Linked DNA regions of Homo sapiens. The protein of the gene in region 1 purifies or fractionates together with the protein of each later gene. This does not show direct contact. Each region holds a gene or a part of one and is shown on either strand. Other genes may lie near its edges.

What was found.
Region 2: the proteins of ZNF547 (region 1) and TUT1 purify together in Homo sapiens (affinity purification with mass spectrometry; one large-scale study listed by BioGRID and IntAct). This does not show direct contact.

The regions. Positions count from the first base shown.
Region 1 is NC_000019.10:57,362,067-57,366,578, forward strand, and holds the start of ZNF547 (zinc finger protein 547), read left to right. Parts: upstream 1-1,484; 5' UTR 1,485-1,637; intron 1,638-2,748; exon of another isoform or gene 2,749-2,767; coding exon of another isoform or gene 2,768-3,190; exon of another isoform or gene 3,191-3,339; intron 3,340-4,512. Other genes in the region: TRAPPC2B (trafficking protein particle complex subunit 2B), read left to right, coding at 2,768-3,190. UniProt on the Homo sapiens protein: May be involved in transcriptional regulation.
Region 2 is NC_000011.10:62,577,985-62,581,779, reverse strand, and holds part of TUT1 (speckle targeted PIP5K1A-regulated poly(A) polymerase), read left to right. Parts: intron 1-78; coding exon 79-394; intron 395-573; coding exon 574-674; intron 675-2,749; coding exon 2,750-3,219; intron 3,220-3,795. UniProt on the Homo sapiens protein: Poly(A) polymerase that creates the 3'-poly(A) tail of specific pre-mRNAs. Localizes to nuclear speckles together with PIP5K1A and mediates polyadenylation of a select set of mRNAs, such as HMOX1.

The DNA.
Region 1 (4,512 bases):
AATTAGCCGGGCGTGGTGGCACGCGCCTGTAAAGCCAACTACTCGGGAGGCGGAGTTCAAGAATCGCTTGAACTCCGGGAGGCGGAGGTTGCAGTGGGCCGAGATCACGCCATTGCACTCAAGGCTGGGCGACAAGAGCGAGACTCCTCCAAAAACAAAAAAAAACCCACCATCCTCCTGGGCAGCAAGTCATACCCTCCCGCCGCGCCCCCTGCCCCCCACCCCTGACCCCTCTCATCCAGGCCTATAATTGCCCCAGCCTGTAAGCAGTGAGGGGTTCTGGCACTAAGCTAGTTCTCCCCATCACAGGTCTCGTGCTGGACATAAAACCTGCATTGCTGTAGAGCTGCCAACTCTGCCTTTCTTTAACCCTCGCCTTCCCTTCAAAACCTAACAGTTATTATTAATAGATTTCTGTAATTTTCATTTCACAAGTATTTTCACAGATAATTTCAACTCCCTGTAAAATGATAACTCACTTCTCAGGAAGGAGATAAGATCATGAAAGTTCACAGTTTTTATTGGGGATAATACGTTCCCTGTGTACATATACTCCAACTATGGAATGGCACAAAATGTCCTGTCAGGAAATGGCATGTATCAGTCACTCTCATTTTCAGACAGGATTGAGACTTTTAAAATAAATGTAAAATATTTCAGACATGAAGTAATAAGTATTATTAGAATAAAAGCATTGCACTCTTGGTAGGAACACAATCACTGACTCTACAGACAGTAATGATGTTTTCTTCTGGATCCAGAGGCACAGCGTCACCCTTTCAATCTACGTCGGTATCTCCTGTCTTCTTTTGTGCAAATTCCCAGCCATGTAGTCTTTCTTTGTTCTCTTGGACCAACCATATTGAAGCTTAATAAATAGAAGTCAAAGTTTAACTGTATGTGTATTTGAAAAGCAACATATGGCTGAGAGGCATGAGTAGAGACAGAGTGCCTTTGTGGTATAGTGTGTCCCTTTGGCGGTGTAGCCGTTGAGAACTTGCTGTGCTTCACAATCCGATATCATAGGTCCCTCACATTTCTGTGAGTATCCTAGACCTTACTTCAAGAAAATCTGGTTATGTCGCCTTTAAGAGCAACCCAAGCCCCGTCCTGTCCGTGGAGTCCGGCACTCTGTTTACCAGCTCCCCTGACGGTGCCACTGAGCCTCTATCCGCCATATAAGGACTGACCAACGCTCTAAGGCAAGTCCAGAAGCGGTGTCGAAACTTCATAACCCAGAAGACACTGCGGTTCTCGGCAGCGCGACTGACCCAATGAATGTGCAGGAAGGAACCTTTGCGTGCGTGCGTGCGTGCGTGCGTCCGTCCTCGTGCTCGCGCATCGTAGGAGGGCGGGACTTCCGGCGTCCTCTTGCCGTGGTTGATTTGATTTTCTCTGGTGTTTTCACTAGTTCCGGCCTTTGGCGCTCTATGACGTCACCGAAGTGACGGAGCGGAAAAGCGCGAGAAGCGGCTTGGTTCCTTGTACGCAGAGGCGGTAGTGACACAGGCACAACTGACAGTGGCAGAAGCTCAGCTGACAAGGACTGGGGACGGCGGTGTCCTTGTCTTGCCTTTGTCGCCCCCGCCCCTCTCTTCCCTGGCTGGACTTGCGGAGTCCCCGCCGAAGAACCCGAGGTGGGTGCCCCGTCCCAGGCCCCCCCCCACCTCCGCCCGACCCCTCCTTCCAGTGCTGAAGCCCATAGAAGGGGCCCTGCAGGTCAGGCCCCTTGTCTCGAAGAGAGGGGCGTTCCTGTGTGGGGTCCCCGTATCAGCTGGTTTGATGCAGCCTCAGAGCTCCCTTCGGGGATCTCAGGTTCAGAGCATGGAGGTGCTGCCAAGTGGGCCGCGTCGGGGAGCCCGGAGTGTGGGTTGTTTCTGCGGGAAAGAGAGGGTTTTGTGAATTTTCTCTTGGAATGGCAGCCTGAGCAGCCGGTATAACCATGGAAGGTTGTCAAGGGAAGACCAGTGGGAGGGGCAGGTCCAGAGTTAGAACGAGCAGGATGGGGAATTGACACAGAGAGACCCAGAAGAGGCCACTGCAGTGGATCCCAGAGGCTGCACCAGAGCCGTGGTATAAGAGGGACAATGTGATGGGATTCTGGATAGACCTGGAAGATAGAGCCAACAGGTTTTCCTGCCGTATCAGATATGTCTGTGAGCAAAAATAGGGAGTGAAGGGTCATTTTTTTTTTTTTGCCCGAACATCTGAAAGAATGAAGTTGGGGAAGTCAGCAGCATGAGAAGTAGGTTTCATGGAGAAGATCATGGGTTGGAGTTTGGCCAGTGTGATTCTCAGGCGTCTCAAGTTGAAAATGTCACATGGGTAGGGGGACAGAAAGGTGTGGAGTCTACAGAGGAGAACTGGTGTAGATTCTTCAAAAGAATAGAGGGTGGCCGGGCGTGGTGGCTCACGCCGGTAATCCCAGCACTTTGGGAGGCCAAGGCGAGCGGATCACAAGGTCAGGCGTTCAAGACCAGCCTGACCAACATGGTGAAACCCCGTCTTTAGTAAAAATACAAAAATTAGCCGGGGGTGGTGACGCGCGCCTGTAATCCCAGCTATTCGGGAGGCTGAGGCAGGAGAATTGCCTGAACCCAGGAGGTGGAGATTGCAGTGAGCCAAGATCGCGCCATTGCACTCCAGCCTGGGCGACAGAGCGAGATTCCGTGTCAAAAAAAGGTGCGGAGCGCGGGTCTCTTCCGCGGAAACTGACATTGCGTTTCCGTTGTCGGCCTCCCGCTGCAGGAGCCATATATTGAAGACCATGTCTGGAAGCTTCTACTTTGTAATTGTTGGTCACCATGATAATCCAGTTTTTGAAATGGAGTTTTTGCCAGCTGGGAAGGCAGAATCCAAAGACGACCATCGTCATCTGAACCAGTTCATAGCTCATGCTGCTCTCGACCTCGTAGATGAGAACATGTGGCTGTCGAACAACATGTACTTGAAAACTGTGGACAAGTTCAACGAGTGGTTTGTGTCAGCATTTGTCACCGCGGGGCATATGAGGTTTATTATGCTTCATGACATAAGACAAGAAGATGGAATAAAGAACTTCTTTACTGATGTTTATGATTTATATATAAAATTTTCAATGAATCCATTTTATGAACCCAATTCTCCTATTCGATCAAGTGCATTTGACAGAAAAGTTCAGTTTCTTGGGAAGAAACACCTTTTAAGCTGAATGGAGAAAATTCCAAAATAAATTATATCACCACAATGGTGTATACTCAGGAATGTGTACATTGTAAATTACTTGATTAAATAGCCTGGAAATCTTTTGTGTATTCTCAGCTTATCTAAACTTAATGAAATTTCTTTTATATTTAAAAATAGTACATTCTGTCTCATGTCACATATCAGTAGATCAATTAGTATTTCCTTGTGAACAATGTTATTTATAAAGAACTCATTATCAATAATAATTAATTTCTTTCTTTTTTTTTTTTTTTTGAGACGGAGTTTTGCTCTTGTTGCCCAGGCTGGAGTGCAGTGGCACAGTCTCGTCTCACTGCACCCTCCGCCTCCCAGGTTCAAGCAATTCTGCCTCAGCCTCCCGAGTAGCTGGGATTACAGGCTCCCACCACCATGCCTGCCTAATTTTTTTTGTATTTTTAGTAGAGACGGAGTTTCGCCATGTTGGTCAGGCTGGTCTTGAACTCCTGACCTCGTGATCTGCCTGCCTCGGCCTCCCAAAGTGCTGGGATTACAGGCATGAGCCACCACTCCCGGCCATGAAATATTTTTACTTAAAAATTGGGAATAAGCTTTCTTTTTCTTTCTTTCTTTCTTTTTTTTTTTTCTTTTGAGATGGAGTCTGGCTCCTGTTGTGCAGGGGCTGGAGTGCAGTGGCACGATCTTGGCTCACTGCAACCTCCACCTCCCGGGTTCAAGCAATTCTCCTTCTTCAGCCTCCCAAGTAGCTAGGATTACAGGCATGCACCACCACGCCTGGCTAATTTTTGTATTTTTAGTAAAGACGGGATTTCACCATATTGGTCAGGCTGGTCTTGAACTCCTGACCTCGTGATCCGCTCGCCTCGGCCTCCCAAAGTGCTGGGATTACAGGTGTGAGCCACTGCGCCTGGCCATGAAATATTTTTTACTTAAAAATTGGGAATAAGCTTTTTTGTGTGTGTGTGTATGTTTTTGTTTTTTTGTTTTTGAGATGGAGTCTTGCTCCTGTCATGCAGGCTGGAGTGCAGTGGCACGATCTTGGCTCACTGCAGCCTCTGCCTCCCGGGTTCAAGCAGTTCTCCTTCCGCCTCCAGAGTAGCTGGGATTACAGGCATACGCCTGGCTAATTTTTGTATTTTTAGTAGAGACAGGGTTTCGCCATTTTGGCCAGGCTGGTCTTGAACTCCTGACCTCAGGTTATCTGCCTGCCTCGGCCTCCCGGAGTGCTGGGATTACAGGTGTGAGCCACTGCGCCTGGCTGGGAATAAGCTTTCGACTTGCCCAATTCAGATAAATTGTTTTTTTTTTTTTTTTTTTTGACGTGGAGTT
Region 2 (3,795 bases), on another chromosome or scaffold:
AATATTCTCATCCACTGTAGATCTCGTGCTTAGATTCTTGGTTCCAAAATCATCATCTCTGCCCCTGTTGTTTACCAGGGAGTGTTTGCCATTGTGGAGATGGGGGACGTGGGTGCTCGAGAGGCTGTCTTGTCACAGTCCCAGCACAGCCTGGGAGGACATCGCCTGCGTGTCCGCCCACGGGAGCAGAAGGAGTTCCAGAGCCCGGCCTCCAAATCCCCCAAAGGAGCGGCCCCCGACAGTCACCAGCTGGCCAAAGCGCTAGCTGAGGCTGCAGACGTGGGGGCACAAATGATAAAGCTTGTGGGGCTGAGGGAGTTGTCCGAGGCCGAGCGGCAGCTTCGCAGCCTAGTGGTGGCCCTGATGCAGGAGGTCTTCACAGAGTTCTTCCCTGGTAAGTTACCTCCCCTACTATGTCTGAGCCCTCCCTGGCCTTTGCTCTCCTGTGTCTGTATCCCCAGTCCTTCCTCCGCTAGAGGTGTTTGGTTGCTCTTCCATCTTTGTGCTCTGTTTTGTTCTTCCCCCTGCTCCTCCCTAACTTCTCTTGACCTTTCTTCTCTGCTCGGCACCCAGGCTGTGTGGTCCACCCTTTTGGCTCTTCCATAAATAGCTTCGATGTCCATGGCTGTGATCTTGACCTCTTCTTGGATCTGGGTGACTTGGAAGAGCCCCAGGTGAGTGAGTGTCCCAGGGAGGCAGCTGGGAAAAGTCCATGAGAATGGCCATGTGACTGTGGGCAAGTCCTTTAGCTCTCCATGTCTTAGTTCCTCATCTACAATGCAGATAATAGGACCTACCTGAAAGAGTTTATTGTAATTGGAGAGATGTGAATATGGATGAGTATTAGATAGGATGAAAATGAACTGACAGGGCCAGGCGCAGTGGCTCGCGCCTGTAATCCCAGCACTTTGGGAGGCTGAGGTGGGTGGATCACCTGAGGTCAGGAGTTCAAGACCAGCCTGGCCAACATATAGTGAAACCCCCATCTCTACTAAAAAAAAAATACAAAAATTAGCTGGGTGTGTGGTGTACACCTGTAGTCCCAGCTACTTGGGAGGCCGAGGCAGGAGAATCACTTGAACCCGGGAGGCAGAGGTTGCAGTGAGCCGAGATTGTGCCACTACACTCCAGCCTGGGTGACAGAGGGAGACTCCTCAAAAAAAAAAAAAAAAAAAAAAGAATTGACATGGATACCTGGCAGTCATAACAAAAAAAAAATTTCAAAATGGTGTGTGCAATATGATCTTATTTTGGAAAAAATATATTTAAAATTATACAATAAGGTCCTTTTAGTTTTGCTTATGTGTATTTTTTTTTTTTGAGAGACCGTCTAACTCTGTCACCCAAAATGGAGTACAGTGCTGTGATCTCGGCTCACTGCAACCTCCACCTCCTGGGTTCAAGTGATTCTCGTGCCTCAGCCTCCCAAGTAGCTCGGAATACAGGCACACGCCACCATGCCTGGCTAATTTTTTGTATTTTTAGTAGAGATGGGATTTCTTCATGTAGGCCAGACTGGTCTTGGACTCCTGGCCTCAAGTGATCCACCCACCTTGGCCTCCCAAAGTGCTGGGATTACAGGAATGAGCTACCATGCCCGGCCACTTAACCTGTATTTTCTAACATCTAATGTACAGATTCTGTTTAGGAAAGGATTATTATTATTACTTAGAAATAGGGTCTCACTATGTTTCCCAGGCTGGTCTCGAACTCCTGGGCTCAAGGAATCCTCCTGCCTCATTCTCCCAAATTGTTGGGATTACAGGTTTAAGCCCCCATGCCCAGCCTATTATTATTTTCAAAAAATAGACTTGGCCGGGCGCGGTGGTTCACGCCTGTGTAATGCCAGCACTTTGGGAGGCAAGGCAGGTGGATCACCTGAGGTCAGGAGTTTGAGACCAGCCTGGCCAACATGGTGAAATGCTGTCTCTACTAAAAATACAAAAATCAGCCGGGTATGGTGGCACGTACCTGTAATCCCAGCTACTCAGGAGGCTGAGGCAGGAGAGACAGCTTGAACCCAGGAGGCGGAGGTTGCAGTGAGCCGAGATCGCGCCACTGCACTCCAGCCTGGATGACAGATTGAGACTCCATCTCAAAAAAAAAAAAAAAAAAATGGACTTTATTTTTTAGAGCAGTGTTAGATTCACAGCAAAAGTGAGCAGAAAGTAGTTTCTATATGCCTGCTGCCCCCGCAACAGGAGTTTTAAAATGTTTTATCATTATTTTTATCTTTCTCTACACACACACACTCTCTATTTATATTTTCTGAATCATCTGAGAGAAGGTTGCATGTATCACATTCCTTTACCCCTCAATACTTCAATGTGTGTTATGCAAGAACAAAGGTATTCTAGTGTAAAGGTATTCTAGTGTATAACCACAGTACCATTATCAAGTTGAGGAAATGTTACATTGACACAGATGTAAACCTTTACAGACTTTACAGTCCATACTCTAATTTGGTCAGCTGTCCTGTCAATGGACTGTTACAGTTTCTCTTTCGTCTGTAATAGTTCCTCTGTTTTTGTCTTTCACGACAATGACATTTTTTGCAGAGGTAGACCTTTTATTTTATAGAATTAAAAGGTTATCTTTAAAAAAAAAAAGGGTTCCTGTGAAGATTAAATGAGTTAATATGTATAAAGACCTTAGAATAGAGCTGAATAAGCTGGAAGTAATATTATCTTGAGAGATCCCTGCTTAGGGAACAGCAGAAACATTTCACTCAGTTCATTTCTGTCCACAGCCAGTCCCAAAGGCTCCAGAATCTCCATCGCTGGACTCGGCCCTGGCTTCCCCACTGGACCCTCAAGCCCTGGCCTGCACCCCAGCTTCCCCTCCAGATTCACAACCTCCTGCTTCTCCCCAGGATTCTGAAGCCCTGGACTTTGAAACCCCTTCCTCCTCCCTGGCGCCCCAAACTCCGGACTCTGCCTTGGCCTCCGAGACCCTTGCTTCTCCCCAGTCTCTGCCTCCAGCTTCACCACTGCTAGAGGACAGGGAAGAGGGGGACCTGGGGAAGGCCTCGGAACTAGCAGAGACCCCAAAGGAGGAGAAAGCAGAGGGGGCAGCAATGCTGGAGCTGGTGGGATCCATTCTCCGGGGCTGTGTCCCTGGGGTGTATCGAGTCCAAACTGTGCCCTCTGCCCGGCGCCCTGTGGTCAAGTTCTGTCATCGGCCTTCAGGTCTCCACGGTGATGTCTCCCTCAGTAACCGGTACCTTTCTTTTTTTTGAGACGACATTTCACTCGTTGCCCAGGCTGGAGTACAGTGGTGCCATCTTGGCTCTCTGCAACCTCTGCCTCCCAGGTTGAAGTGATTCTCCTGCCTCAGCCTCCCAAGTAGCTGGGATTACAGGCATGCGCCACCACGCCTGGCTAATTTTGTATTTTTAGTAGAGACGGGGTTTCTCCATGTTGGTCAGGCTGGTCTTGAACTCCCGACCTCAGGTGATCACCTGCCTCGGCCTCCCAAAGTGCGGGGACTACAGGCGTGAGGCACCATACCTTTCTTTGGGGCAGGCCAGCTGAGAATTCTGGGATGGGCCAGGAGAGTCTGGCTTGGGAAACTCCTGCACCTGCCAAGTCTCAAGTTTGTCCTTGTTTGGGACCATCCCTCTTTCTGTCCCTTATCTCCTCCTGCCTGGCTTCCATTTCAGTGTTTGTAAAGTGTGTTCCTTAGAATACTACTTTTTTTTTTTTTTTTTTTTTTTTGTGAGACGGAGATTTACTCTTGTTGCCCAGGCTGGAGTGCAATGGTGCGATCTCAGCTCACTGGATCCTCTGCCTCCCA